7 separate regions of the Homo sapiens genome follow, and all the other regions are reported to be linked to region 1. The links are microRNA targets in miRTarBase. Many come from high-throughput screens and were not tested one by one. Region 1 holds a microRNA gene; each other region holds the end of a gene's coding sequence.

What was found. Region 1 holds the annotated microRNA hsa-miR-1305 (UUUUCAACUCUAAUGGGAGAGA, at 1,411-1,432, shown strand). A microRNA usually pairs through its seed, bases 2 to 8, with sites in the 3' UTR of a target mRNA and lowers its output. Matches are read on the target gene's strand: a 7mer-m8 pairs with bases 2 to 8, a 7mer-A1 pairs with bases 2 to 7 and ends in A, and an 8mer does both.
Region 2: the mRNA of LVRN is a reported target of hsa-miR-1305. Seed matches in the 3' UTR shown: 7mer-A1 at 2,150-2,156 and 8mer at 2,054-2,061.
Region 3: miRTarBase lists RC3H1 as a target of hsa-miR-1305. Seed matches in the 3' UTR shown: 7mer-A1 at 1,581-1,587 and 7mer-m8 at 2,955-2,961.
Region 4: the mRNA of ZNF225 is a reported target of hsa-miR-1305. Seed matches in the 3' UTR shown: 7mer-A1 at 515-521.
Region 5: the mRNA of UBR3 is a reported target of hsa-miR-1305. Seed matches in the 3' UTR shown: 8mer at 676-683.
Region 6: the mRNA of TRIM4 is a reported target of hsa-miR-1305. Seed matches in the 3' UTR shown: 7mer-m8 at 605-611.
Region 7: miRTarBase lists FCGR2A as a target of hsa-miR-1305. Seed matches in the 3' UTR shown: 7mer-A1 at 2,415-2,421.

The regions. Positions count from the first base shown.
Region 1 is chr4:182,167,933-182,171,051 of GRCh38, forward strand. MIR1305 (microRNA 1305) reads left to right here and starts at 1,361; the gene lies at 1,361-1,446. It also overlaps a transcript of TENM3 not described here.
Region 2 is chr5:116,025,696-116,028,695 of GRCh38, reverse strand. LVRN (laeverin) reads right to left here. Exons shown (of 20, transcript NM_173800.5): 20 at 1,090-2,718. The coding sequence ends at 2,578. Among named protein-coding and RNA genes, the nearest start is that of ARL14EPL, 5.3 kb to the left of the region's middle.
Region 3 is chr1:173,936,009-173,939,127 of GRCh38, reverse strand. It overlaps RC3H1 (ring finger and CCCH-type domains 1), which reads left to right. Exons shown (of 20, transcript NM_172071.4): 20 at 257-3,119. The coding sequence ends at 407. Among named protein-coding and RNA genes, the nearest start is that of SERPINC1, 20 kb to the right of the region's middle.
Region 4 is chr19:44,132,371-44,135,489 of GRCh38, forward strand. ZNF225 (zinc finger protein 225) reads left to right here. Exons shown (of 5, transcript NM_013362.4): 5 at 1-2,452. The coding sequence ends at 365. Among named protein-coding and RNA genes, the nearest start is that of ZNF234, 7.6 kb to the right of the region's middle.
Region 5 is chr2:170,081,379-170,084,497 of GRCh38, reverse strand. UBR3 (ubiquitin protein ligase E3 component n-recognin 3) reads right to left here. Exons shown (of 39, transcript NM_172070.4): 39 at 367-2,772. The coding sequence ends at 2,655. Among named protein-coding and RNA genes, the nearest start is that of MYO3B, 95 kb to the left of the region's middle.
Region 6 is chr7:99,889,290-99,892,408 of GRCh38, reverse strand. It overlaps TRIM4 (tripartite motif containing 4), which reads left to right. Exons shown (of 6, transcript NM_033091.3): 6 at 1-2,006. The coding sequence ends at 246. Among named protein-coding and RNA genes, the nearest start is that of OR2AE1, 14 kb to the right of the region's middle.
Region 7 is chr1:161,517,917-161,520,916 of GRCh38, reverse strand. It overlaps FCGR2A (Fc gamma receptor IIa), which reads right to left. Exons shown (of 7, transcript NM_001136219.3): 7 at 1,088-2,942. The coding sequence ends at 2,769. Among named protein-coding and RNA genes, the nearest start is that of TRG-GCC2-1, 4.5 kb to the left of the region's middle.

The DNA.
Region 1 (3,119 bases):
ATGATACAGAATATTAATCACTGCATTAAATTTGGATATTATTATAACGATATTTAGTAAAAAGGACAAACTTGAATTTCTGTTCATCCCGTCACACCTCTCGATTAGAGCTAGGTGAGTTACATGTAGTTATAAACTAAAGGGACTAGACCCCAAAGCTATGTTCACTCTACTCTTCACTTTTAATCACATATATATTTTCTTTTCTTTTTTTTTTTTCGAGACAGGGTCTCACTGCAACACCCAGGCCGGAGTGCAGTGGTGCAATCACGGGTCACAGCAGCTTCCATCTCTGGGGCTCAAACAATTCTCCCACCTCAGCCTCCCGAGTAGCTGGGACTACAGGCATGTGCTACCACGCCTGGATAATTTTTCTATTTTTTATAGGGACTGGGTCTCACTATGTTGCCCAGGCTGATCTCAAACACCTGGGCTCAAGCAATCCTCTTGCCTTGGCCTCCAAAAGTGTTGGGATTACAGGCATGAGCCACCGTGCCCAGCCCACATATGTATTTTCTTCTCTCTGGGAAACTAGCCTTCGTTTTCTCCAATTATTGACTTATTTCTTTTTCACCCAGGCTTTGTGTTAAGCTCCTGGATCTCTATGAAACCGCTGCTGATACTTCTATTAGCTTCTGTTAAAAGAAATGAAAAACTTCACCTTACAGGTTTCTTTCAGCATCTCTAAAAGTCTCTGTTGTTAATATAGTATTGAGACTTATCCCCACCATAGTCATTTGCATAAAATTATTATACTGTATATAAAAGTTTAAGATGTAACTTTAAATGAACATGAATTATAGGTATGGATAATTGCATTAATTTTGGAAATTTGTGTTGAATTTTCTTCTCTAAGTGGATATCTCTTAGTGCTGCTCAACAGTTAGCCCATTTTATCTCTTCATTTATGTTGGCCATTTTTCATTTATATCTTCTGAAAAAAATTCATGTATATGTTCTGAAAAAATAACACACTGTATACAATTAATTGTATTTGCCCAATTTTTTAGAATATTTGTTTATATGTATACTTACAGGCTTAAAAAAATCATTCACATGGTCCAAAGTGACTGATGTTTAAAAGTGACAGCTATATGAGGGAAAACGTATATGGACAGATATATGTCATATAATCATGCCATACACACACACACACACACACACACACACACGTGGGTGTGAATGAATGCCATCTTCTAAGATCTGTACATTTGACCACTATTAATCTGTGGTTCTTGAAAATTAATGAGATTAATTCATAAACCAAGTGATTTTTGAAGCCTGCAGTCTGGCGAGTCAGGTTGGTTCTGTTCCTTTAGATAGCTTAACTGAGTACAAAATTTGGGGTATAGCATTTCAGAAGATCCTGCTGTTTCTACCATTAGTTTTGAATGTTTATTGTAAAGATACTTTTCAACTCTAATGGGAGAGACAGCAGGATTCTCCCAAAAATTCAAGTAAAAATCTGCACGAGGAAAAGAAGTCTCCTGAGATGGATTGAATTCTTCTGAAGAGAAAAATATATAATTTACTACCACCTAAAATATGAATGAAGATATATGTGAGGAGCTTTTTAGAGGAGAATTTATCTTATATTTATTATCAGAAAGTGCTGTGAATTTAAAATCTTTCTTTTGCCCAAGTCAAACAGAATTTCCAGTAATAATGAGAAACGTGTGACTCTTGACCATTTTGTTTACCAAATAATGTAGTGTGAGATATCTCTACTACAGTAATAACTTCCGGTGTAATTTACATTGGCGTTTGTTAACAGCAAAAGACCTCTCCTGTGGGGGTTAAGAATATTTAATCCTTTAAAGCTGACATATATAACATGTAGCTATGTCAGCTACAGCTGTTTCTAAACATCAGTAACAAAATTATAGACAGGTTTTGAAGCTTCTGTGGTGGGAATGAATACATCTGAGGATTCAACTTGCTGACAGTGTTTTTGTAATTTAATCTTACCATCTGGTAGAAAGTAAACATTTTTTATAAAATTAAAGTTTATAAAGTGAATCGCTTATAGTTTCCGATTGTTGTGAATGACAAATTTAAGTGTACTTTCATTGAAGAATGAATGGAGATTCTGCCACTGTTTTGAGATGCATACTAGATCGCAACTGATTTTGCCATTTGATCTTCATTGGTTCCTTGAACAGTAAACAAATTGGCACTTTCATGTCAGCTAAGGATTCTGTGTTTCATATGTCTTTCATTCCTTTAAGATAGCATACATGTTGTTACTTGTTTTGCACAGAAGAAACTAGGGCTTGGCAATTTGTATGTCGGTAATGTCAGATAAGTGATGTCACAAATAGAATGTACCTCTGAACTGAAAATAAATGATTTTTTCATTGCATTTCATACTTTCTTCTATAACGTAGTTATATTTGTATAATATGCATTTAGCTATTGTCTAAACTATTATGGTGTAATCCAGTGTATTTGCTTTGCAAGTAGCACCTTTCTTTCTCCTTAGAAGTTGGCAAATTAGCAGATTTGTGAAATTGACAAATTGGTTTACAAACCCTGCCAAATTCAAACTTTATAAATCTGATCTACGCCTTTTACTTGAAATAAATATACACGCTGATAGACTCTTGTGTTTATAGTTGTGCCCTGTGTTAAATTGAAAGCCTACACTCTATGATGATGTAATAAAATTTAATTAGTTGTAAGTCAGGTTTTGGTTAATGGTAATTAGTTTAGTGTATAATTATTACATCTAATAGCAATCTGAAGTCTGCAAGCATTTTGATCTTTTTCCAAGTAAAAAGAAAAAAAACCACAAAGCTCCTGTAAGATTTATAGCAGAAATTGCAATAATAAAATCACATTAGCTAATTTCATTAGATAAATCACAGAAAATGTTAAGTGGCAAAGTAAAATTTCAGTGATGATGTACATGTGTTATGTTGAGCTGGTACATAAAATATTTTTAAGTGAGTTTTTTTTCTTTTCAATTAAAACTATCTAATGCGACTTTTGATGCTTCTTACTATTTAAAATACATCATCGGTAGTTTTGCATGGCAAAATTAAATGTTATTCCCATAACAGCTATTGTAGAGTGATCATCAGGGTCAATACATGCTTTAAAAATCAAAGAAATTTTAT
Region 2 (3,000 bases), not on the chromosome of region 1:
ACCACTCCCTGACTTGTTACTGCATTATTGCTATCACAGAAACCAATCAACAATTACTTGTTTTTATAGTTTGTATAAGGTAAAGCATAATAAAATGCAGTGCTTAAGTAGCCAGCTTCATCCAAGTAAGTAAAAATGGTATATCATCCATTTTTTCCCCATATTTAGAGGAAAGACTATTAATTAAATATTTGGGAATTTGATTTTGGAGAAACGCCTTCAGCACTATTTAATTACTACAGAAGCTAAGATGTAATAGGATTCAGTTTAACTTTTAACAGTCTGGAGAGACCAGCCTACATGCTCTTTTGGCAAGATCAGTAGTTCTTGGCATCACCCAATACCAGGCATCAGAGCCTTCTTGACACTGAGTGTCAGCCTCAAAGCACGCTTGGTGGACTGAGAGCATGGTTGGGTAGGAAGATCAAGGAGCAAGGATAAGAACAACCAGGCAGAAGTAAGGCAGAGATTACTGGAAAGAGGAGAAAGGAGAAAAGGGGAGAAGGGAAGAGGCAGCTTGATAGAGAAAGAACGGGAGTGGAAACAGAGGAGAGAGCTATGTATGGCTTGAATGTGTCCCTCCAAGGTCATGTGTTGGAAACTTAATCCTCAATGCAATGTTGAGAGGTGGGACTTTTAAGAGGTGATTAGGTCATGAAGGTTCTGCCTTCATGAATAGATTAGTGCTGTTATCATGGGAGTTGGCTAGTTGTCTTGGGAGAGGGTTCCTGATAAAAAAGATGAGTTCAGTCCTCTTCCCTCTTCTTTCTCTTGCCCTCTTGCCTTGTACCATGGGATGATACAGCAGGAAGGCCCTAGTGAGATGCAGGCCCCTCGACCTTGGAATCTCCAGCCTTCAGAATGGTAAGAAACTCATCTCTGTTCTTCATAAATTACCCAGTCTAAGGTATTCTATGACAGCAGCACAAAATGGACTAAGACACAGAAGAAGAAGAGGAAGAGAAAAGCAGTTGAGAGGACAAGTGAAGACAAAGTTATTGAAAGATGAGATTCATTATCAGAGGAAATATGGGAAATATAGAATGAGTGTTTAAGAAAAAAAACAGGAAGGTATCTCAGCTACAACACTTTGTAGGCATGCAGATATTTTATTGCTGAAAATTTACATTTCTACATTTGAAGAAAAAATTCTCTGACCTATGACCTGTGGCCAAGTCTGAGTAGCCTGTGCTTTCGTTTGTCCACGTGGTGAAGTCCCACAGCCTCCCCTGACACTCAGGGAGAATCCTCTTGTGAATCAAATACAAAAGCAAACGTTTGTTTTGTATTTTCATTTATGGCTGCCTTAACTTATACAAGAAATAGGCAAAAAGTCTTAATCACATTGCTTTGAGCGTATGTAACATCTTTAAAGACTGTTAATTGATGTCATACTCCTTAATCTTTAAAAATATCACCCTGAGGAGGAGATTTGTAGTTTTACCCCCATTCTACAAAAATAAAAATAAAAGATTAAATCATATACACAAAGTCTAGAAGAGGAATGATTAGCTTTAGTTGTCTTGTTTTAATCAAGCATGAGAAAACTAAGCTAATTCCATACATTGGGACTGATGAAAATGTGTAAAGTAAGTTGGTCCACATTACAAGTAGGTTCAATTTGGCCAAAAGACACTATGTTTCAAACTTAATCCCCTGAGTGCAAAACTGTAAGGATTATGCTCCAGTTAGCCTTTTAGTTCTGTTTCTTTCATTTCAAGATTCCTTTTGCCCTAAATAGTAGCCTATACTTGCTATTGTCTTTTGACATCATTGTTTTCACTCGTACGCTTAGGCTGAAAGGGTGTCCATCCCACTGGTGAATACACAATTAAGAGCTTCAGAGCAGAGCCTTCATCTCCACTATGGCCTCCACCACAGCAAGCCTAAGTGCACTTCCATGGATCCTACAATCATTTGTCTTTTTGTGACACCATAAAGTTTAGTAACCAGCAACACGTGGTTCAATGCAGGATGTACTGTGGGAGAGAGAAATGGGCAGGAGAAGACACACTTCTTGCCTTTAGGGCTCGTTAAATTGTCTCCTCTTTCTTTTTCAACTTGCTTTTCTTTGGCTCCACTGTCTTCTAGTGAATATACTTTTTGAGTTTCTGTCTTTTTATATTGTCATGTTATCTTCTCATTAGTCTTTTCAATCTTCAATGTTGAACTAAATAAACCCTAGGGCCTGGAAAAACTGTTATTTCCCTCAGCAAAGAATGTGCTCCTCATTAATGCCATTGATTTTTATATTCCACTGGCCTTCGCAACAAAATAAGCAAGACTATCTTAGGTGAATTTGTTTTTACGTGACATTTAAAGTAAATTCTGTGGGATTATAACCCAACATGAAGTGACATCTTTCCCAGAAATACAGCAGCATTGGCAAAATTGTCAGCAATCACCCACCCTCAGGGCCAAACATGACAATATGAGAAGAATGGCACTCTGAGTAATAAATGTGACTGAAATACAAATAAAATGTGTGGTTTTCCAGACTCACAAAGTATTGGAAGACAAAACTGTGAACAAACTACATTATAATATGCAAGAGGAGTGCTGAAAGATAGCCACAAGCTATGTGTTTCTCCTTAGCCACGCAGCTATCCTGGCACTTAGCTTCTTGTTTTTCAGATTTTCATTCTTTATTGTCTGTAAGTTGGCATGAACTCTGATCCTCTGGTGTTCCTCCAACATGTTACTGAAAAACTGCTGCAGCTGGAAGGACAGAGAGACAGATGATCAGTGCAATCCAACTTCCCATTTGGACAAAGTAAATGTCTAAATGCTAAGTAGCAACATGAGTTTGTAAATTGGTGATGATGGTTGGAATGAGTAGAAATGTATACTCCTAGGTTGTGTGTCCCTGGGGAGACTGTGACTGAGACAATGTGATGAACACCACACCTACCCCAAAGAAGCAGATGTAGACAGGAAGGTGCATGAAGCAGAAACTATGCCTTATTCCCAAAGCACATATTGAGTCTCAATGAATATTTA
Region 3 (3,119 bases), not on the chromosome of region 1:
GATAATACGTTAAACAAATGACCAGGCTATATTCCAATAAAACTTTAGTTACAAAAATATGCACCTGAAAAAAAAAATACGCACCTGGCTAGCTTTAGTTTGCCAACTGTGTGCTAAAACATGGATAAGGGGCTGTAGATTAAAATGTGGAAGCCATTTATATATTTTCAATCATGCTAAATTATATCCCCTGTTGATTTTATTGTAGTAATCATTTTTCTCTCTCTCCTTTTTCAAAATTTTAAAATGTCAGCAGTGATGTACCAAATGGATCAGCCTTGACACAAGAGAATATCAGCCTCCTATCAAACAAGACCAGCTCTCTGAACCTGTCAGAGGACCCTGAGGGAGGAGGGGATAATAATGACTCCCAGAGATCAGGAGTTACTCCCAGTTCTGCTCCTTAAAATATGAGGAGTCCTACTTTTATCTTCTGCTCCTAATCAGTTTGTCGGGCATAGGGGTAGGAGAACGCATAACTTCTAAACTTTTTCTCTTAAGAGCGGTCAGAGAAATCCAGGAAATTCACCAGAGGCAATGTGCACAAACACCACTACTAAAAACAAACCCTGCACATAGTTCACATTAATGCATTTTTTTAATTTAAAGAAAAAGAAAATTAGCAGTATCTGCAAGCAATTCAGATTAAATTTGTTTTTGTTCTGTGAATGAACTTTATTTTAATAACTTTGGACGCCTTGGATCCAGGGCTTTAAAAAAAAAAGATATTATATATACACTCTGTTTGATTAATTGTATGATCTTAATGAAGTAGGTTTTCTTGTATTTTGGTATTACATACCCAGTGTATAATTTGTATAATTCCTCACCCCCAATCCTTATCAATTCTCACCACCCCATAAACTTAAAACAGACCAAAAATGTCAGCTTTCAGAGAATTCTGTGGTGCTTGAGAAACAGACAGTACTAGACTGAGTTATTAGAAAATGTGCAGCAAACCAACTTTTCCCAGAGCTGTTATTTGGAATTCTTTATCCCTTTCTAGATCACTAGCTTCATTGGATACGTATATTTTTCTTGACATTGAAGCTTTTTGTTTGTTTGGGAGGGTTTTATTTCTTGTTTTTATTTTCAACTTTTCAAATAGAATTACCAATTTTGAAGTCCTCATTTTCATATTAAGGATCATTTGCATTCTCTTAATATAATCAGAAAGCTGATTCAGTGTTTAATTAGATTTAAATGTTGATCAAGAATTAACTGTAACTTACTAGCACTGAAAATACATGTTTGGTGTTTCGCCTGCGTTCAGCTCATGGTTGGAAATTTGAAGCAGTGCTTTTCAAATTAAACTTTTGCTGACATCATAGGATGCTAAAAAACAAGGACAATCAACTATGTTTTAAAACTGCAACATTTGATTTGAACTTAAAATGAATAGAGCCACATTATTTTAATGGATGTTTTGTTTTACTTGTGAACTGATTGAGTCTTAAGGATAGTTTATGAATTGATCACTTGTTGCTCAGAATCATTAGTATAAGTAGGTAGGAAATAGTTTGAAGTCATTTTTCATAGACTTAACTGTCCAATGTTGCAAATGTTTCTTCATGAAAATATTGAAAAGAGTAAGGTTTTTTTTTTTTTTAATTCTGCTGCACATATTCTGATGCCATGTGTCTGTGCTTAATTAACTAAGACCCTATAAAACGTGTTTAGTGGGGACTGTTTGATATAGTTGCCCTCTCCATTCCTCTATTTGCCTGATTTTTTTCAGTTTCCCTTTCTGTATTTTACTACTAAATTAGAAAGCACTGGTTATGTAATAAGTTACTACATTGCTTTGGTTGAGTAAAAACAAGAGTTTATATTTTTCTTGTTTCTTATTTTCTTAACCCTTAACTCCTGCTGAGGTCATAACAACCTCAGTCTAAGCTCTGTGTCCATCATACTGTTAACTTAAACAAATGGGTGGTGGGGGTGGGAAGGGTAATACAGTCCTGCCATTGCCTACCAGTAGGAGAGTCCAAACAGAACACTCTTTTGAGTAGCAATTATTTAATTTGCCCAGTCAAGGCACCGTGTTTATATACTATTTCACATTGAATTTGATTATGCCCTACAGACCTGGCTGGTCAAGGATTTGATATACACATATTGGCTTGGGATTCGAGCTTTCTTTTTTATTTAAATAAAAATTTATATATATATTATATATATACATATATACATAGCTATATCTGTATATATATTGGGTATGTTTTAAGGATTTTTTCGCATGAGCGCAGCTGTTGCGATAAATTGACCGATTGGGAGGTGGTAGAAGCACTGAATGAAGGTGAGGCTTTTTTTTTTTCCAGTTTTCTTATACATTTGTCTTCTTTTTTTAAAAAAAAAAAAAAAAATATATATATATATATATATATATATATATATGTATGCTTTTTCTTTTTTTTTTGGCTTTTGTTTGCTTTTTGACTTTTACTTAAAACCCTTTTACATTTCCACTTTAAATGCCTATTGTTTATTGGGAGAAGGAAAGAAACTTTTGTATGTCTGACAGAGTCCCAAGATTTTTCATTTCTCTGCATAACAGTAAAAGGCAACATTATTGGCCTCCAACCTTCTTTTTTTTTTTTTTTTTTTTTTTTTGGAGAGGGAGTCTGCTTCTGTTGCCCAGGCTGGAGTGCAGTGGGTTGATCTCGGCTCGCTACAACCTCCACCTCCCGGGTTCAAGCGATTCTCCTGCCTCAGCCTCCTGAGTAGCTGGGACTACAGGCACGCGCCACCACGTCCAGCTAATTTTTGTACTACAACCTTCTTATAAGCAGATTTGGACTGATCTTCTCCTTTGGGTATGTCAGATCATCCTAAATTTTAGAAGCAGTTGATTCACTTTGGAATTCAGAATGATTCTTGTATTAGAAGATAATTTGTGGGTATTAATTTTTGTTTAAGTTTAAAATAAAAGTAAAGATTCATTTTGGATATCAGTTGAAACCCCTTAGTAACTCAGTTTCTGTTATTCTTGTTCTCATTTCCTTTAAATACACTTGTTCTTGGCTTTTGCCATTTTGATTCTGTGAAGTAGGCAGGAGCAGGGATTAATTTATACAGTATTCCTGTTCTGAACAAAACCAGAAAAGTCACTGTATAAA
Region 4 (3,119 bases), not on the chromosome of region 1:
ATAAGAGACTCCATGGTGATGAAAAGCCATTCAAATGTGAAGAGTGTGGGAAGAGATTTACTGAGAATTCACAGCTTCATTCCCATCAGAGGGTTCACACTGGGGAAAAGCCATACAAATGTGAGAAGTGTGGAAAGAGCTTCAGATGGGCCTCAACTCATCTAACCCATCAGAGACTCCACAGTAGAGAAAAACTACTTCAATGTGAGGACTGTGGGAAGAGCATTGTGCACAGTTCATGCCTTAAAGACCAACAAAGAGACCAAAGTGGAGAGAAAACATCTAAATGTGAGGACTGTGGGAAGCGCTACAAGAGGCGCTTGAATCTTGATACGCTTTTGTCATTATTTTTAAATGACACATAACTGTTGTACTCATTTATGGGGTACAGTGTGATAGTTAATGCAAGTATACAATGTGTAATGATCAAATCAGTGTAATTAACATACCTATCACCTCAAACATTTATCATTTATTTATGTTGGGAACCCTTAAAATTCACTGTCCTAGCTATTTGAAAATAATACGTTGTTAATTACTGTCACCCTGTAGTGGTGTAAAACACTAGAACTTATTCCTCCTACCTGCCTGTATTTCTGTATTCATTAACCAACCTTTGGCTACCACCCTGCCTCCTCACCTCTAAGAACTACTATTCTACTCTCTACTTCTATGAAGTTAACTTTTTGAGCTTCCACATATGTGTGAGAACATGTGGTATGTATCTTTCTGTGCCTGGCATATATCACTTAATATAATGCCCTGTAAGTCTCATTCACTTTGCTGTGAGTGATAGAATTTTGTTGTTTTTCATGGCTAAATAGTACTCTGATGTGTATATTTGCCCCATTTTCTTTATTCATTCATCCAGTGGACACTTAGGTTGATTACATACCTTGGCCTATTTCTTGGCTATCGTGAATGGTGCTGCAATAAACATGGGGGGGTGGAGATAACACTTTAACATACTGATTTCCTTTTCTTTGGATATGTACCAAGTATCATATAATAGTATGACATGACTCAAAATTAAGGAATAAGATTGTGGAAATTGGTTTTCAAAAAAAAATTCTCTAGTTTGAATATAGAGAAAAATTGGTGAGTGTCTTCAGCTGTCCTCATACATAATGCATGTGAGCTCGCTTTAAGCATAAGTGAAGGAGTGGAAAAATCCTGGAGATAGAAATCAAGGGGTATACATGTGGATGTAAAAAATCAACAAAGATTCTTTTAAGAAAAGGTGTGTATGGGTAGGGAACAATAGCATGACAGCAGTGCGGCCTCTAACAGTCTGGAACCAGTTAGGACAAAGAGCAGGATTGAGCGCCATTCCATTCATAGACACCGTGGTGATATTTTGAGTACATTAGGTTAAAAGGCTTTCTTCAGCAAAATCTATCTCTAGAGATAGATTTGATTTTTATAATCAAATCTACTAGAGATAGATTTGATTTTTATAATCAAATCTACCAGAGATAGATTTGATTTTTATAATCAAATCTACTAGAGATAGATTTGATTTTTATAATCAAATCTACTAGAGATAGATTTGATTTTTATACTTAATGTTCTAGACTGTATCTTTTCAGGATGCTAGGTACTTTATGAAGATCCATGCTGTCTCAATTTGCATAGTGGGTTGGAGGTCCCTAAGACAATCTCTCCAGATTCTATGATTTGCTAAGAGGACTCAGAATATAGTTGTACTCATGACTATATTATAGTGACAGGATACAAATAATCAGCAAAGGGAAAAGGTTCTTGTATAATATCTGGAGGGAATCAGATGTAAATTTGTAAAGATCCTTTGTGCATGGAGTAACAGGTCTCAATTCCTCCAGTATTGAATTGTGACTGTACTTGTGAAATGTCTACAATGGAAATTAATTATCAACCCGTACCAAAGGTTCTTATTGGAACTAATCATGTAGGTACCATCCCTCTGGTACATATCAAGATTCTAGACTCCAAGAAGGGGAGCAAGTGTTCAGAATAACTTGAACCATGCCTACCAGTTATGGAATGGTGGCAACCCTCTCAAACTCCGTGTTTCCTAACACCAGCTAAAGGCCAGTCTTATAAGCAGTCCTTTCTAAGATTTGCAGTCTCAGGCCTGTTATATTAACTTTTTGTGCACATAGTACTAGAAAACTGTTGGCTCAGTCTTCTTTTTGTTTTGTGTGTTTTGGTTTTTAACTGTCACCGATACCAGAATAGCTCATCTCCAAGGTAACTGTAACAGAACACTCAGCAGATTAAACAGAAAATACTTGCTTATTATAATTATTAAAAGTTTGGTAGGGTCTATGTCTGCTCTCTGGTGTGTCCTGGATCATCAACTTGGTTACAACATGGTGTTAACATGTGGGACTGATTGTGTTTCTTGTTAATATTTCTGTTTCTCCCAACCACGCTGAATATTAAATACCTAGTTCTATATCTAGTACCCTGAGCTTATGTGGGGCTAATATTCTTTGCCATTTTTCACCACAGATTTGATTTCCTTTTTCTTTTGTGGACACTGGTGAGTTCCCTAATATAACTTTGACTTGGTTATATTTTCACAATCGGTGGGGATTATTACAGATTATCATCCTTCCTCTGCATTTGAAAAAGGAGGGAGGCTTCAAGTCAGGTTAGTTGACCTTCCTTTGTTGGTCTTATTATCCATAACATAATAAATAAATTGATGAGGATGGGCATGGTGGCTCACGCTTGTAATTCCAGCATTTAGGGAGGCTGAGGCGGCGTTTTAGACCAGCCTAGCCAATGTGGTGAAACCTCATCTCTACTAAAAATACAAAAAATATGCCAGGTGTGGTGGTGTGCGCCTGCAATCCTAGCTACTCAGGAGGCTGAGGCAGGAGAATCGCTTGAGCCTAGGAGGCGGAAGTTTGCAGTGAGCCAGAATCGTGCCACTGTACTCCTGCCTGGGTGATACAGTGAGTCTCCATCTCAAAAAAATAAGTTTATGAGAAGTCTATTAAATTGTTACATAATCTATATAGGTAGAAGGTTTCTATTTCAAGTGAACCAAAGTGTAACTTGAATCGTCTAATGCAGACTCACAGCCCAAAAATAAATTCCAAGACATGTCCACTTTACAAATCCACAATTCC
Region 5 (3,119 bases), not on the chromosome of region 1:
TTCAAACAAGAATGCAAACCACTCAAAATAAACATTCTCATAAAGCACTAAACATTTCTGAAGTCTGGCTGGGAACTTTCAGAAAAGAACAGAGATCACAATTCCTCAGATCTACATACCCATTTCCTTCTCCCCCTACCAAACACACACACTTAGCAAAGAATGTGCATTGATTATGAGACAAGGACTGAAGAAGCAAGAACTCACTCTGCAAATAAAAGAAAAAAAGCAAAGCAAACCCTTTACACTTACTCCACCCTAAAGCAACTACTAATTATGTTGTGCTTTGATCTTTTCAGCCATGTTCACTCACATATATTACTGTCAATATCTTTGGGGGAAAAAAAAACATGTAAGCAGTAAACATTTTAAGGACCTTTCACAAACCAAATGACAGCAGGTTTTTATTAACATATCTTACAATGTTGATTATTCCTAGTTTTGTAATTTCTGCTTAATTATAAAGATCAATTTAGCTTCTACAGTAATGTACTGTATTTAAATGATCATTCATACAAGATATCACACCAGTACATTTTTTTGAATAATATACACACATCACTCTAACTTGGACCTGTTATTTTTAAAAGTGGGTTTATAAATGGGACTTATAAAAGTTATGGGGAAAAATTAAAGTTCTAGTTTAGCAGCATGCATGTATGTATTCAAGTACAATTTTCAACCAAGTGCTTTTTTAAAATTTACTGGTGACTAATTCACCAATATCAAAATAAACACTATCAAACACCCAAATTTTAAAGTTAAGGCTAATATTTTCACTTCACATCCATATGCACAACCATAAAACATTCCATTTTAAATAAGTAGTAATCAAAGTCTGAATACATTATACCATGTATATATAGCATCAGAGTTTCAAACTGTAGAATTATTCAAGTTCATGAATCCTGTAACAGTATTTACTAGAGATGTCAATTAGCATTTTGCTCTTCAACCACACTTACAAATGGTCTGGTATTCATAACGATCAATGCAAAAAGTATGACAGGCTGAACTTATGATACAGTATTTAAAAAAGTAGCAATGTGTTGGAAAGGACAGCTATTTAGTCGAACAGAATCATTGACTCTTACAGAAAGTTATCTTAATATTTTGGAAATGTATATAAAAATAGCAAGCTATTTCCATGTATTTTATTGTAGAACGATAGGTAATCTTTTGACTTTCTGAATACATTTGAATATGTACTGCTCTGCTTTCCATATTTTAATGCAAGGCCATGATTTAATGTCCATTTTTATACTCTTGTAATGTCATGTCATTACAAAAATTTTTTAGAACATGGATCTGACATATTTTATCATTAGATTTGTTTAGTTTATTTTTACATGTAAAAATGTAATTTTATATAACAAGCCATGGAAGTCCAAAGTACCAGGGATTGCTTGATAGCACTATATATTAAATAATCATTCAATTACTGAATCATTTAGGAAAAAAAATCTTTGTAGCAATATGTCACATGCTTTTCAGTAATCTTCCTTCTCATAGAGTGGGTTTTAGCTCAATCATTCCCATTTTTACTGATTTTTAAACCCTGCAAACATAAATTGTTTTTCACAGCAGTTTCTAAGAAGAATGCAGAAGCGTGGCTCATTCATGAGGGTCATCACCACTGCGCCTTTTTTTTCCTTTTAGGAAACCGAGCAGAAATAGTAGTGATTACACTGCACAAATACAATATAGCTGAACCTCTTGAGCTGAAAGGAAGTTCCAAAATTTATGGTTCATTTCTGGGGAAGTCTGAGCATTTCTAATACAATCATATAAACAAAACCTTGTTTGGTAATAAAAGGTGGGCATGCACGGAATCAACATCTGCCCAGTGTATGTTCTTAAACCTCTTGATTTCATAGTAAGATTTGTTATTACCTCTAGTAATTCATCCAACTGAAATGGCAAATTTTGATTTTTAAGGACCCCCCAACCACACATATGCCCCCCAAAATGTACTGTATTATATTAACAGCAGCTATCTACTTATTTTACAGCTATTTCAATTATTTACCTGGGGAGAAGATTTATGAAATTCCTGAGAATGAATTCAGTTTTCAGCAAAGCTTTAAACTTTTAACAGATTCCTCACAATAAGAAAAAATTTTAAAGTTCTACTATTAGACCAACTTTTACTATACAGTATTTCACATAAATCATGTTTTACATTTTTTTCTAATTACATACAGAAAAATTCTCCAATCAACACAAGAATGGCAGAGGAAAAAAGATGCATTATGCTTGGCAGATGCAAATTAAAACACACAGACAGAAAGAAGCAGTAAAATGTCAAATAAATCACACCCACTCTAAGTATCAATGAATAGCTGATACGCATTGTTGGGAGAATCATTTCTGAATGAGTTTGTGAACAAGTTGTGCTTCTTATTAATTGTGCACTTAAAAAATGACCACTAAAGAATAATTTAACTTGTTATTAATGTTCTCCAGATATTAAAAAAAAAAAATTATACCATTAACGTGATTACCAAGCACCTAATTTTGGAAAGGCTTCATAATGTATGTTTTCTTTTTCTCCCTCAGCAAAAGTGTTAATCCCCCAAATTAAGTTAAAGCTTATTGTTGAAAAATAAATTCGTAGCGAAAATGATGATACGATGCAATGCTGAGGTGGAGAGTCACAGCCCATTGTAATGTGGACCCCATCTTTTATTGATGTGATCAAAAGTATGAGAAATCCACTGTTGCTCAAGAACTTTGTATCTTTCCTTACAAATGTAGAGAGGTTTGCCTCGCCTAGAACAAAAAGAAAAAAAAAGTATTAATATCATACACGGAAGATTTCACATGCATTTCTTTCTTCTTTTTTTTCTGAGACAGTCTCTCGCAGTGCAACCTCCGCCTCCTGGGTTCAAGCAATTCTCCTGTCTCAGCCTCTCGAGTAGCTGGGATTACAGGTGCTCACCACCATGCCTGCCTCCTTTTTTTATTTTTTTATTTTTTATTTACTTATTTCTTTTTTGAGACGGAGTCCCACTCTGTCACCCAGGCTGGAGTGCAGTGGCACGATCTTGGCTCACTGCAAGCTCCGCCTCCCGAGTTCATGCCATTCTCCTGCCTCAGCCTCTAGAGTAGCTGGGACT
Region 6 (3,119 bases), not on the chromosome of region 1:
TATTGGAGTGCTGCTGGCTATTGGCCCTTGATAGGCTTCCCTGGAACTCCCACCCAGCAAGAGCCAGCTCTCCACCGAGTGGGGGTTTACCTGGATCGTGGGACTGGGAATGTCTCCTTCTACAGCGCTGTGGACGGAGTGCACCTGCACACCTTTTCTTGTTCTTCTGTCTCACGCCTCCGGCCATTTTTTTGGTTGAGTCCATTAGCATCTTTAGTCATTCCACCAGTGACTGATAGGAAATGAGGCTTTTCTTCCCCTGACCAAAACTCCTTCCCTGTAGTCCAGCTGAGGGACACACATCCCTGGGCCCTCTTCTGCCCTTCATGTCTCTATCCTGGATGGTCCATCTTCTGGGTCTCCCTAACGGTACCGTTTGGTATCTGCCCTTTGTGTGCTTCACAAGAGGCAGTCCCATGGGAGGTGGGTCTGGCCAATGGAGATGGGACAGGAAATTTTCCAAGACGCTTTTGGGAAATCTTTTTGTAGCTTTTAAAGAGATGTGCGGGGAAGACATATGGATGTTAGCAGCCATATTGGAACTGAGAACACAGGAATGGTGGAAAGGTAGAAGAAACAGAGTTTTTGTTGCCGTTGTGAAATTGTTGAAATTTCCTTCATGCCAAGCTTCTTGTTATATGAGATAATTACGCCCTTATTGTATAAGACAATTTTAGTTGTATTTGGTTACTTGCAGCCTGAAGTACCGTAACTGCACTAAAGGGACGTAGTGTGAACATCCCGCAGTATAGGCTTAAGTCACTTTTGTGAAATTTGACAAAGGCATAGAATCTTTTTCTATCCAGTCAGGCATTGCCTATTCTTTCCAGTAACTACTGATTCCCCCACTTTTCTGTCTTAGAAAATTGTGGGAATCCCCCCTCACTCTGCCTATGTTGCACTCTCTCTCTTCCCAACCATAACTCTGCCCTCAGCTATTAACTGTGCTGTGTATTTATCAAGTTGGTATGTTGTATGTACAGTGTTATTCATGTCATCATGAGAATGTTGAACGCTTGTTAAATATCTTTTGCTAGCCTCTTCATATGCTGTTGCATATGACTCTCATCACAACTCAGTGAGATGGAAAGTCAAATCCTATTTGTACAAATGAGAAAACTGAACTCTTTAGAGTAACTAGCTCAGTATTGGCCAGCTGGTAAATGGCAGTGTTGGGATTAAAATCCAGTTCTTATCTACTCTCCCTTTATTCAGAAGCATTTATTGGATGTTGATCTTTGTTTCAGGTTTTGATTTTGTTACTTTTTTATACTGTGTATATTTTCCTCAGTCTACCCTTCTGCTCTAGATTGTCTGGACTCAGGAGATTGTGGCAGTTACTGGATAGTTATTTTTAAGATAATGATTGCTTTTCTCTGTTTATATAAGTCATGTGTACTTATTGTAGAAAGTTTGTAAGATGCAAAAAGTATAAAAATTAAAGTTATGCACTACTAACATTTCAATATATTTTCTCCCAGATTTTCAGTAAAGACTTTCAGGCAGTGATTTAACGAGGATTTTATTTTAACTTATATTTTAGTTTAAGGGGAACACGTGCAGGTTTGTTCTATAGATCAATTACATGTCACAGGGGTTTGGTGTACATATTATTTCATTACCCAGGTAATAAGCATAGTACCCAATAGATACTTTTTTGATACCCCACCCTCCTCCACCCTCTACCCTCAAGTAGTCCCTGGTGTCTGTTGTTCCCTTTTTTGTGTCCATGGGTACTCAATGTTTAGCTCTCCCTTATACGTGAGAACATGTGATGTTTGGTTTTCTGTTCATGTGTTGGTTTGCTTAGGGTAATGGCCTCCAGCTCCATCCATGTTGCTGCAAAGACATGATCTCATTCTTTTTTTATGGCTGCATAGTATTCCATGGTGTATATGTACTATGTTTTCTTTATCCAGTCTACTGTTGATGGGCATTTAGGTTGATTCCATGTCTTTGCTATTGTGAATAGTGCTGCAATGAATATATACATGCATATGTCTCTATGGTTGAATGATGTCTTTGGGTATTGGGCATATACCGAATAATGGGATTGCTGGGTTGAATGGTGGTAGTGAGGATTCTTACACAACTTACAGCATCTTCCCTAACTCCTCCTCCCCTCCTCCCCTTCTTATACATCAGCCATCTTGGCTTGTCTTCCTATTCAGCCTGAGCAGCCCCCTCATTCAACAGTTTCTACTGAGTTCTCAACTTCCCAGGATATTTGCTGTTATAGGTTGAATTATGTTCCCCAAAAACATATGTTGAAGAGCTACCTGTGAAAATGACCTTATTTGGAAATAGGATATTTGCAGATGTAAACAAGATAAGGTCATTTGGGTGGGCTCTAACCCAATATGACTGGTGTCCTTATAAAAAGAAGGAAACTTATGCATATGTTCACACACTCATGCCCACACACACACAGAAAAATGCCAGATGGAAACAACGTGAAAGAGGCTCTGGAAGATGGAGGCAGAGATTGGATTGGAGTTATGCTGTCACAAGCCAAGGAACCTGGGGCTACCAGAAGCTGGGGGAAGCCAGGAAGAATCTTCCCCTAGAAGCTTTGAAGGGAGCATGGCCCCATCAACACTTTGGTTTCTGATTTCTAACTGCCAAAACTGAGGTTAGACAGTAAATTTCCATTGTTTTAAGCCACCCAGTTTGTTATGGCCACCTTAGGAAATGATGACTACACTTGCCCTTCAGGACGTCCTTCAGTGCCTGTCTTACTAATAGCTAATCCTTTGGAAACTCATCAGTACCTTCCCTCCTCTCTTCCTTCTGGCTATTGAAAGGTTGATTGATTCTGCTATAAATCCTTGCTCTCTGCCTTCAAGTGGGCCCTTTGAGCTGCATGGTAAACTTTTTTTATCACTTGACTTGTTTTAACGTCTTTGGTGGCAATGATTCCAAACTTTTCCTTTTAAGCCTTCATGAGTCCCCCTTCATACGATTGCAAAGAACTTGCATCTTCAACAGAGAAAAAATTCTTTTCCCCTACCCTTCTTATTCTTCACAATTCTTTGTCTCTGTGCTTGAGTCTTGATATTGACCCCTCTGGTCTCATCAGGTATGGGATGGGACCTAGGTGTTCATTTTTGTTTAAAAAG
Region 7 (3,000 bases), not on the chromosome of region 1:
AAAAGCAGTAGGAGATGAGGTCAGAGAGAGTGAAGAGCAAGATCCTGTAGCATCCTGTAGAATATTGGAAAAGCTCTAGCCTTTACTCCAACCACAAGGGGAAGATAGTATATGATTTGGGGAAAAGAAGTGACAAATATGACACACATTTTTAAAAGATCACAATAGCTGTTATGGTGAGAATAGACTATAGGATGGCAAGGGTGAGTGCAGGGAGGCCAGTCAGGAGGCTATTGGAGTAATCCAAGTGAGAAATGATGGTGGCTTGGACCAGGGTGGTAGGAGTAGAATACTGAGAAGCAGTCAGATTGTTGGGTGCATTTTAATGTAAAAGCAGGATTTAACAAGGCTTTACATATTTGAGGAGCCTCTGTCTAGGGTGATATGGTTTGGCTCTGTCTCCACCCAAAGTCTCGTCTTGAGTTGTCATCCTCATAATCCCCATCTGTCAAAAGTGGGACCAGGTGGAGGTAACTGGGTCATGGCGACGGTTTCCCCATGCTGTTCTCATAATAGTGAGTGAGTCTCACGAGAGCTTAGGGTTTTATAAGTGTCTGGCACCTTCCCTGCTTGCACTCACTCTGTCCTGCCATCATGTGCAGAAGGTGCCTGCTTCTCCTTTGCCTTCTGCTGTGATTGTAAGTTTCCTGAGGCCTCCCCAGCGATAAGGAACTGTGAGCCAATTAACCCTCTTTTCTTCATAAATAACCCAGTCTCAGGTATTTCTTCATAGCAGCGTGAGAACAGACTAATACATAGAGACAGACTAATACATAGAGTTTGGAAGGGTGGGTGGAAGCTCCATAGCCTCCTTAAAAATCGATGTAAACTATCCAACAGAGAAAGCTGCTACTTTTCAAATGCAAGAATTGTGCACAGTGATGCTGTGTCCCAGGAAAATGGAAGGCTCTTTAAGGGCACTCACCAAACCATCAAGGAGACTGTGGGTCATGTTTCTAATCTGCCTGGAATGACTTCTCTGAGAAGGTCACATCCTTCTGGTAACTGCACTGGGAAAATAGCAGTGCAGGAAGTCAGCAGTCTCCACTGACAATTCACCTGAAGTTTGCCTTTCTGACAACTTGTGTTCCAAAACAAAGTGAATGCTTTATTTGCTATAGAAGGAAAGGGAAGAAGACATGGAAACAAGAATACAAGTTCATTAGAAGAAGAGTATTCAGTTCTAAGAAGAGGGGCACTCACCCTACACTCCAAATCTCCCTCTCTCCTCTCCCTCACATCTTATCCATTACTACCTTCTCAAGACTTTCATCACCGAAAAGAAACAGACCCCGGATAGTTCAGTCTACACCCCAATCAATACAGCCCTGAAAAGGTAAACAGAATGTTTTGGTTATAATGTTTTATTACAAAGGTAATATATGATCATTATAGAAAAATAAAATAGGTCATCAATAATTGCATCACCTTGAAACAATCACTTTTAATTTGTTGTTAGAGGTTAGTCTATTTTAACATTTCTGAAGTCATATAGACTTACATGATTGCTCTCATGTAACCTGTAACATAAGCGTTTCTCATGTTGCTACATCTGTTAATAACAGTGGTTTGACTAATTGTATTGGCTGTGTGGATGTGGAACAGAAGATTCTTGATGTCAAGAACGGCTGAGGCACAGAAGGTGCAGTCAGTCATTTGGGACCATATTGTCTGTGGCTTTCAGGACAGGGAGCTTTGGGACTCAGGTAGATGACTCTGGAAGAGTCCTTCTCTTTTGGAACTGCAGCATCCCTTCGTCTTCCCCAAGGGGAATTTAGTCCAGGAAATACCAGATCCTCACCTCTCTAATTCTCTTCTCAAATCCCAAGGCAAAACAATGGAGACTTAATGTGGTTCTGGTAATTGGGCTCTTTGTTCTTCTGGAGCTTCCGACTGCATAAGCAGTGAATAGGTGATTTTGTTCTCAGCATGGAGAAGGCAGAAACCAGCAGTAGGGATCCACAGAGAGGGCATAGGAAAGAAGATGTTAAAGAGGCTGGACATTGGGGCTGATGCTGGTCATCCCAGCACTTTGGGAGGCCGAGGCGGGCAGATCGCTAGAGGCCAGAAGTTCGAGATCGGCCTGGCCAACATTGCGAAACCCTGTCTCTACTAAAAAAAAAAAATAAAAAATACAAAAATTAGCTGGGTATGATGGCACATGCCTCTAATCCCAGCTACTGGGAGGCTGAGGCATGAGAATCGCTTAAACCTGGGAGGCGGGTTTGCAGTGAGCCAAGATAGCACCACTGCACTCCAGCCTGGGTAACAGATTGAGACTCTGTCAAAAAAAAAAAAGATGTTAAAGGAAAAATCTGAGGCGCAATTCATGAAGTTTAGTGTTCCAGTGGCAAAATGTCACAGGCAAGTATTTATTGGGAAAATGTGGAAGCAAAATAAAGGCAATCGGTTGGTTTTCAATTACATAATTGTTTTTTGGGGGTAGGTATCTTCTTAGAAAGTCCCTAGTCACCTAATTATATGTTAGTAGGCTGCTTGTGATTGGCTGGGGTTGTCTTATTTCTAACATAAGCATTTACCAGAAATGATCCAAGTTAAGTTTTGCTTATGCTTGTATGTAGTATGACCCCGTGAAGTTTTGCTTGTGTTTGTAGTTTAAGCAAAGTTAAAGCTATTTCTAAGGGCCAGGTGGTTTTGTTTGCTCAGGATTTTTCCAGTCTCCATTTAAATTTTCCTTTAACAATTCCCCTCTTTTTGTCATCCACTCAGCAAGCTGAGAGTATGACCACATGGCATAACGTTACTCTTTAGTTATTACTGTTGACATGGTCGTTGGGAGGAAGAGTCAGGTAGATGTTTTTATCATCGTCAGTAGGTGCCCTGGGGTTCAGAGTCATGTAGCCGCCGTCAGCTGTTTCATAGTCATTGTTGGTTTCTTCAAGTTGTCTCTTTCTGATGGCAATCATTTGACGTCCAGGTGGCTGCAGGAAAGCATTTAAAACCCATAGGATAATTCAATACACCGGGGAGGTAAATACA